Homo sapiens: one gene and its partner. The protein of the gene in region 2 purifies or fractionates together with the protein of the main gene of each other region. This does not show direct contact. Each region holds a gene or a part of one and is shown on either strand. Other genes may lie near its edges.

The links. Proteins that work in one complex are often made in the same cells at the same time.
Region 1: the proteins of SLC7A6OS (region 2) and EAPP purify together in Homo sapiens (affinity purification with mass spectrometry, with the first as the bait; one large-scale study listed by BioGRID). This does not show direct contact.

The regions. Positions count from the first base shown.
Region 1 is NC_000014.9:34,522,702-34,526,354, reverse strand, and holds part of EAPP (E2F-associated phosphoprotein), read left to right. Parts: intron 1-1,547; coding exon 1,548-1,658; intron 1,659-3,653. UniProt on the Homo sapiens protein: May play an important role in the fine-tuning of both major E2F1 activities, the regulation of the cell-cycle and the induction of apoptosis. Promotes S-phase entry, and inhibits p14(ARP) expression.
Region 2 is NC_000016.10:68,297,447-68,301,012, reverse strand, and holds the end of SLC7A6OS (probable RNA polymerase II nuclear localization protein SLC7A6OS), read left to right. Parts: 3' UTR 1-2,979; downstream 2,980-3,566. UniProt on the Homo sapiens protein: Directs RNA polymerase II nuclear import.

The DNA of each region.
Region 1 (3,653 bases), on a different chromosome or scaffold from region 2:
CTGGGTTCAAGCAGTTCTCTGCCTCAGCCTCCCAAGTAGCTGAGATTATAGGTACCCGCCACCATGCCTAGCTAATTTTTGTATTTTTAGTAGAGACGGGGTTTCACCATGTTAGCCAGGCTGGTCTTGAACTCCTGACCTTGTGATCCACCCACCTCAGCCTCCCAAAGTGCTGGGATTACAGGCGTGAGCCACCATGCCCAGCCTGTGTGCTTGTTTTTTAATGTAGCTTTACTGTTTTTAAAAAATTCATGGACTTTTATTTTTGGTACACTTGTCACAATTAATGGACTAATATTGATACATTATTATTTTTTTTATTTTTTATTTTTTTGGAGACAGAGTCTCGCTCTGTCGCCCAGGCTGGAGTGCAGTGGCGTGATCTCGGCTCACTGCAAGCTCCGTCTCCTGGGTTCAACCGATTCTCCTGCCTCAACCTCCTGAGTAGCTGGGACTACAGGCATGTGCCACCACGCCCAGCTAATTTTTGTATTTTTTTAGTAGAGATGGGGTTTCACCATGTTGGCCAGGATGGTCTTGATCTCTTGACTTCGTGATCCGCCCGCCTCGGCCTCCCAAAGTGCTGGGATTACAGGCGTGAGCCACCGAGCCCGGCCTTGATACATTATTATTAATCAAAGTCCATAATTTTAAAACATTTCCTTAGTTTTTATGTACTGTTCTTTTTCTGTTTGAGGACCCCGTGTAGGATAGTACATCACTTTTAGTTGTCATGTCTCCCTGGGCTCTTCTTGACTCTGTCAGTTTCTTAGACTTTCCTTGTTTTCAGTGCCCTTAATTACTTTGAGGAGCACTAATCAGGTCTATGTAGGAGGCCCCTCTGTTGGAATTTGTCTGTTGTTTTTTCTCATAATTAGGATGGGATTATGGATTTTTATAAGTAAGAACATAGAAGTAGAGAGCCATTTTCCTCACATTATATCAAGAGTACATACTACCAACCTGAGTTTTGTGTGTTGGTATTGACCTCGATCACCTTGCTGACCAGTGTTAACTTTCTCTACTGTAAAGTTAGTCTTTTACCCCGCCTTACCATACCGTACTCTTTGGAAGGAAGTCACTGTGTCCAACCCAGACTTAAGGACTAGGGAGTTATACTCCACCACTGTGAGGGAAGAGCATCTTTATAGATTATTTAGAATTCTGTGTGGGGATTTGTCTGTTCTCCTCCATTTATTTATTTATTCAGTACATTTATATTAGCGTGGATTCGTGGGTATTTATACTTTGGGTTGTAATCCAGTCCTACTTTATTTTGTTGCTCAGTTTCAGCTTTGGCAGTTGGTGACTTGTTCAGTTGGCTCCTGTTTCCCTTTGTCATAACCACCTCACTGTTTTGTTTTTGTTTTCTTGATTACTTCCTTCTTTTCTGGCACTAAAAGATGCTCCAGGTTCATCTTGTGTTCCTTATTCCTAGAATTAGCCATTTCTCTGAATAGTACTGGTTCTTTTTATTGGAAAATGACACTAGAAACCAAGATCTGGTTTTAATATGTTTTTCTCCCCACTTTCTTCTTCTGTTCTAGTTACCATGGTTTGGGACCACAGAGATCACGTCAACAACAGCCTGTTCCAAATAGTGATGCTGTCTTGAATTGTCCTGCCTGCATGACCACACTTTGCCTTGATTGCCAAAGGTAATGGATGAAGGACACACACACACACACACACACACATACATATTTTGTTTAAATTAGAAACAGACTTTTTTTTTTTTGAAGTCAGAGTCTTACTCTGTTGCCCAGGCTGGAGTGCAGTGGCACAATCTCGCCTCACTGCAACCTCCGCCCCGTGGGTTCAAGCGAGTCTCCTGCCTCAGCCTCCCAGGTAGCTGGGATTACAAGCGGCCACCACCATGCCTGGCTAGTTTTTGTGTGTATCTAGATCTAGATCTAGATCTAGATAGATAGATAGATAGATAGATATAGTTTTGTTTTGTTTTGTTGAGATGAAGTCTCACTCTGTCGTACAAGCTGGAGTATAGTGGTGCAATCTTGGCTCGCTGCAACCTCTGCTGCCCAGGTTCAAGTGATTCTTCTGCCTCAGCCTCCAAGTGGCTGGGATTACAGGTGCCTGCCACCACACCCGGCTAATTTTTGTAGTTTTAGTACAGACAGGGTTTCACCATCTTGGCCAGGCTGATCTTGAACTCCTGACCTTGTGATCCACTTGCGTTGGCCTCCCAAAGTGCTGGGATTACAGCTGTGAGCTACCACGCCCGGCCTTATTTTTATATTTTTAGTAGAGACAGGGTCACACCATGTTGGCCAGGTTGGTCTTGAACTCCTGACCTCAAGTGATCTGCCCACCTCGGCCTCCCAAAGTGCTGGGATTACATGCGTGAGCCACTGTGCCCAGCCCAGAAACAGACTTTTGAGGTACTCAGGAATTCTGATAAAGTTCTGTACTTAGATTCTTGGTGCTGTGTGACTAATCTTTATACAATTAATTTTGATTATATATAGTTATATTAAATGTAGCTTTTATACTTTTAAAGTTGGGCACAGTGACTCATGCCTGTAATCCCAGTGCTATGGGAGGCTAAGGCGATCACTTGAGCCTAGGAGTTTGAGACCAGCCTAGGCAACATAGTGATACCTCATCTCTACAAAAAATAAAAAAATAAAAAATTAGCTGAGTATAGTGATGTATGCGTGTAGACCCAGCTACTCGATAGGCTGAGGTGAGAGGATGGCTTGAGCTCAAGAATTCAAGACTGCAGTGGGCTGTGACCACCACTGCACTCCAGCCTGGGCAACAAAACAAAGGTGAGATCCCCATCTCTCTCTCCAAAAAAAAAAAAAAAACGGGCTGGGCGTGGTGGCTCACGCCTGTAATCCCAGCACTTTGGGAGACCGAGGTGGGCGGATCACGAGGTCAGGAGATCGAGACCACGGTGAAACCCTGTCTCTATTAAAAATACAAAAAATTAGCCGGGCATGGTGGCGGGCGCCTGTAGTCCCAGCTACTCCGGAGGCTGAGGCAGGAGAATGGCGTGAACCCAGGAGGCGGAGCTTACAGTGAGCCGAGGTCACGCCGCTGCACTCCAGCCTGGGCAACAGAGCGAGACTCCGTCTCAAAAAAAAAAAAAAAAGGTATCTTTTCTAGTGCAAAATAGCAGCATAGAAGCAAACTGGCTCTCCTTCCCCCTGCAGAATACCAAAACCAAATATACAGCACTGAAGCTATCACCACCAGTATCCCAGATCTCAATATAAGGAGGAGACAGTTTCTAGGGCCACAGAGAAGTAAAAAAAACTTAAAGCAGACAGTAAGAGAATTGTTCTTCCATATCTGCTTATCCTTCTCCACAATCTGCCTGGCACCAAGTGAGCAGAAAAATTCCCCTGAGCTCATGATTTTTACATTAGAAAAAGTAAGATGGAAGTGTACAACCAGCTTCTTTACCTTTTTGAGTTCTCTGGTAAGAGATCTGTCCCTGCCTCAACTCATAGGAAGCACTGAGAGTGCCTGAAGGAAAAAATATCCCTGAGGATAGCCAGAGACAAAGAAGGATAGCCAGAGACAAAGCCAGGTCCCAAGTGTGAACCCCTAGCCAGCATTCCCATCCTACTGGGATATCCCTATCCTCTTTGGGACCCACCCCCCACTTCATTTGGAACAGGCAGCAC
Region 2 (3,566 bases):
GGTTTCTTTAGCTTTAGCTTCTTGGCCCAGGAATTTTTCCTGGCATTCAGGTTCTGTGCTGAAACCACAAGGGAGGGGGAGGTTCCCATTTCATTAGCAGTAAGCTTCTGCTGTGCCATACCACCAGGCTGCCTGCCTCTAGGAAAACCCTGTTCCTTTTGATAGAATCTAAAAGGGGTACCAGTGGGTCCCTTGTAGCAATACAGACTGGATAGTAATGGCCATTAGGGCAGAAAGTAGTCTGAGCAGTGGGAGATTTTAGTTAACAGCTATTTCTGCTTCCAAACTCTGATAACGGTTGTGAAATTACTGACTGACTTCCTTTGGCAGTGGGGCCAAGAAACAATATATATGAATGTGATACATGTGTTTAGTAAAATCTAGCTTTGAACATGGAAGAAAGTAATTCTTTGAAAACCTTTTAAATCTGAATATCTAAAACAGGGAGCGGTAGTGAAATAGAAGGTTCAGCATTGATTATAAATACCAAGGACTTAAGGCAAGGGAGGAAAAACAAAGTACCTTCTGAACTTAGCTTTCCACTGAGTAATGTTTACTCTTCACAGCACCCACCACAAAAACAAACTACTATCAACAGGATCAATTTTATTAACAACTTGTATCTCTTCTAAGCAGACTCTGTCCGTATGCCTTTCCAAACCATAGCTGCCTTAACTGACTGCCTTGGTGTTTATTCTAGCGTAACATTGTCCAGTAGAACTATCTGCAGTGATGATATGTTCTGTGTCTGCACTGTGTAGTAGTAGACACGGGTGGCTGCTGAGCACTTGAAATGTGATTAGCGCAACTGAGAAACTGAGCTTTTAATTTTATTTCATTTTAATGTAATTAGCTACACGTGGCTAGTAGCTGTTGCAGCGGACACCACAGGTCTAAGGAAACAACACAGAACATTCAGCTAGGGGTGTACCCTCATAGCCTGTGAGTGTCTCTTACTCACTGTCATGGGGGAAGGTGAGTTACACAGGGAGGTACCTTCTTGCCGCCTCTTTTAGGATTTCCTAAGTATCTCTCCTTCATCCTACCTGCCATCATTCTTTGACTTTATGTCCATTTTCTAAACCTTTGCCTACACTTGCTCTTATCTACATGGAGTTGTTCAACCTGCCGAAGTGATTAAATTCTGTGTACACAGGCCGTATATATTGCAGCTAATTAAAACAACAAACATCCTAGGCATGCACAAAGGTATAATTCACCGTTATAACAGGCAGCAACTTGTATGTCTAATATTAGACATCTTGCTTTCTGTCTGTAGGCATAGAAACAAAGGATTGAAAGCCATTCTCATACAGCAACCGGGTGAAAAAAACAAAACACTGTGCTGTTACAATGTGCTCCCTGCTATTTATACTCATTAAGTTTCCCCAATATTAAAGGGCTGACAACTTAATAAACTGTACTCACTGCAAAAGGGATAATAAGCACACCAGGAAAAGGATTTAAGGAGACAGACAACAAAGAGCTGGCAGAAATTAATTCCACCATGAAGCTTGAGTGCTGTAGGGATCCTCTGGCTTCGCTCCCAAAGAGAGGATCCTGGGAGAAGTCTGTATCCAGCACAGAGGGGAAAAATGCTGTCACCATCCAAAAATGAAAGGAGGATGACATGGCTCACTAAGCAAGTACTAGGGCACCTGGCATGTGAGGTCCTTGCTTTCCCTAGAAGCCACTGGTGGGGGGCAGCAAATTCCTGGGATTAGCTGGTTATCTGGTGGAGAAAGCTAAAGCTGGGGTCAGGGATCTTTAAAAGGCAAGCACATTTTGCTTAAAGGATTAGCTCCAGAGGAGCCCTGGGATGGGTGCCAGCTTAGCTCAGACAGAAGTCATGTTCTTAGCGTTCAGGCAAGTCAGCCTTTGCATAAGACACCCTGTCGTCGGGCAGGAATTTGCCGTTACAAATCCCAAACCCATGACAGTAGGAATGTCACCCCATGCTTCACATATGCATTATGCTCTGAACCCAGGGCAACTATGACCATGCTTCCTTCAATCTTTATTGAGCAAATATATGGCCAAGGTTATTCCCTTATCTGTGACTGGGTGGAGAAGAATGGTCAGGAAGGGAGACTGCCTCACTGTTGACCAATTCCAAAACCTAAGGATAAGCCCATGGGGTATGTCAAGCTAGCAGGTTCTTCTCGGCCCAGGATGACAGTGTCTGGGGGCATCACAAAACAGTTGTACAATCCAATGCAGCCGTCCTGCTCATACAGTAAGATCCATTAGGCCAGAGCAGGCCTAACTTGGGTGGAGAGCCCAGCCTGAGCACCAGAATTAGTTGCTTCCACTTGTGCAGCCTGCTGAAGAGCCGGACTCAGGTTGAAGCAGCTTTCCTCCCAGTCTTCACTGATCTCCACAGGGAGAAAACAGAAGTCCCCACAAGTACCAAGCTCTTCCTGAGACTGCAGCCACCACACCTCGGGGAAGGGGAGGCTGGCAGGAGAGGAGTACACTGTCCCGGTGACCCACACCAAGGTGGCTCCAAGTGTAAACAAAGCCTGGTGCCAGGGACAGAAGAGGATGCAGCCTGATGTGAGGTTTTCAGAAAAGTGAAATGACCTAGCACCAGGTTGGGATTGCTTGGGTCTGCACAGCAGTCCCTCACACTGCCCTTACAGAGAGGAACAGGTTATTTGATGACTTGGGCCCATGAGATGTTCTCCAAGCCATTGACAGCTGAGAGAATTCAGGTGATCCACCTGAATATCAGAAGTTTCAGCCCTCTTAGAGTTCGTAACAGAAACCCAGAGATTTACTGTCAGCTAGAACAAAGATGTAAGGTCTCAAGTAAAATAAAGGATTGTCCTTCAAAACAGCAATATTAACAGACTTCTGACTCAGGAATTTGTTCATCTGTCCTTGCTGGACCTGAGCCAAGTGCTTGTAACGTGATCTATGATCTATCTGTATGCTAAAGTGTAACAGGTACGTGAGTAAAAAAATCTTTAAGGTTCATTGTTGCAGGTAAGACTCAATAGAAATTGTGCTAAACAGCATAAAACCTGTGGTCAGAGTCTGACCCAATACCACAGACATTTCTGAGCCCAAAGGGACTCAGTTTTGGGTACTTTGATTTTTAAATACAATCAGCCTATTGCATCCTGTAGATGAAGAGACACGCATGCTTCGTTAGAACTGGTGTTCTGGACTAAATATCAATAAATAAGGGAATATAACTCTCTCCCCAGGGAAGAATTTTGAGCCAGAGGAAGAAATGGTAGCATTTCAGGCCTTTAAAGTCAGGTGTTGTACCTGGTCAGAGAAAAACTTCCCATAAAGCAGCCCCTCTATAGGGACTCCTAGTTCAAATACCAAATTCAGAAGCCACCAGCCCTATCAACCTAGCATTCCCTCTTCCCCACTGCACTTTACCAAGTAAATATCTGTAAGAGCTGCATCTACCTATCAGGAGTAAAACTAAATGACCATTCCCCCCGTTCCCCAATCTTCCCCCCACCCTCTGAAGCCCCCACCTTGAGGTTGGCCCAGATCCTGAGTCTCCTATAGCTTACCAATAAGAGTGAGCACTGGCCCTGAGCCCC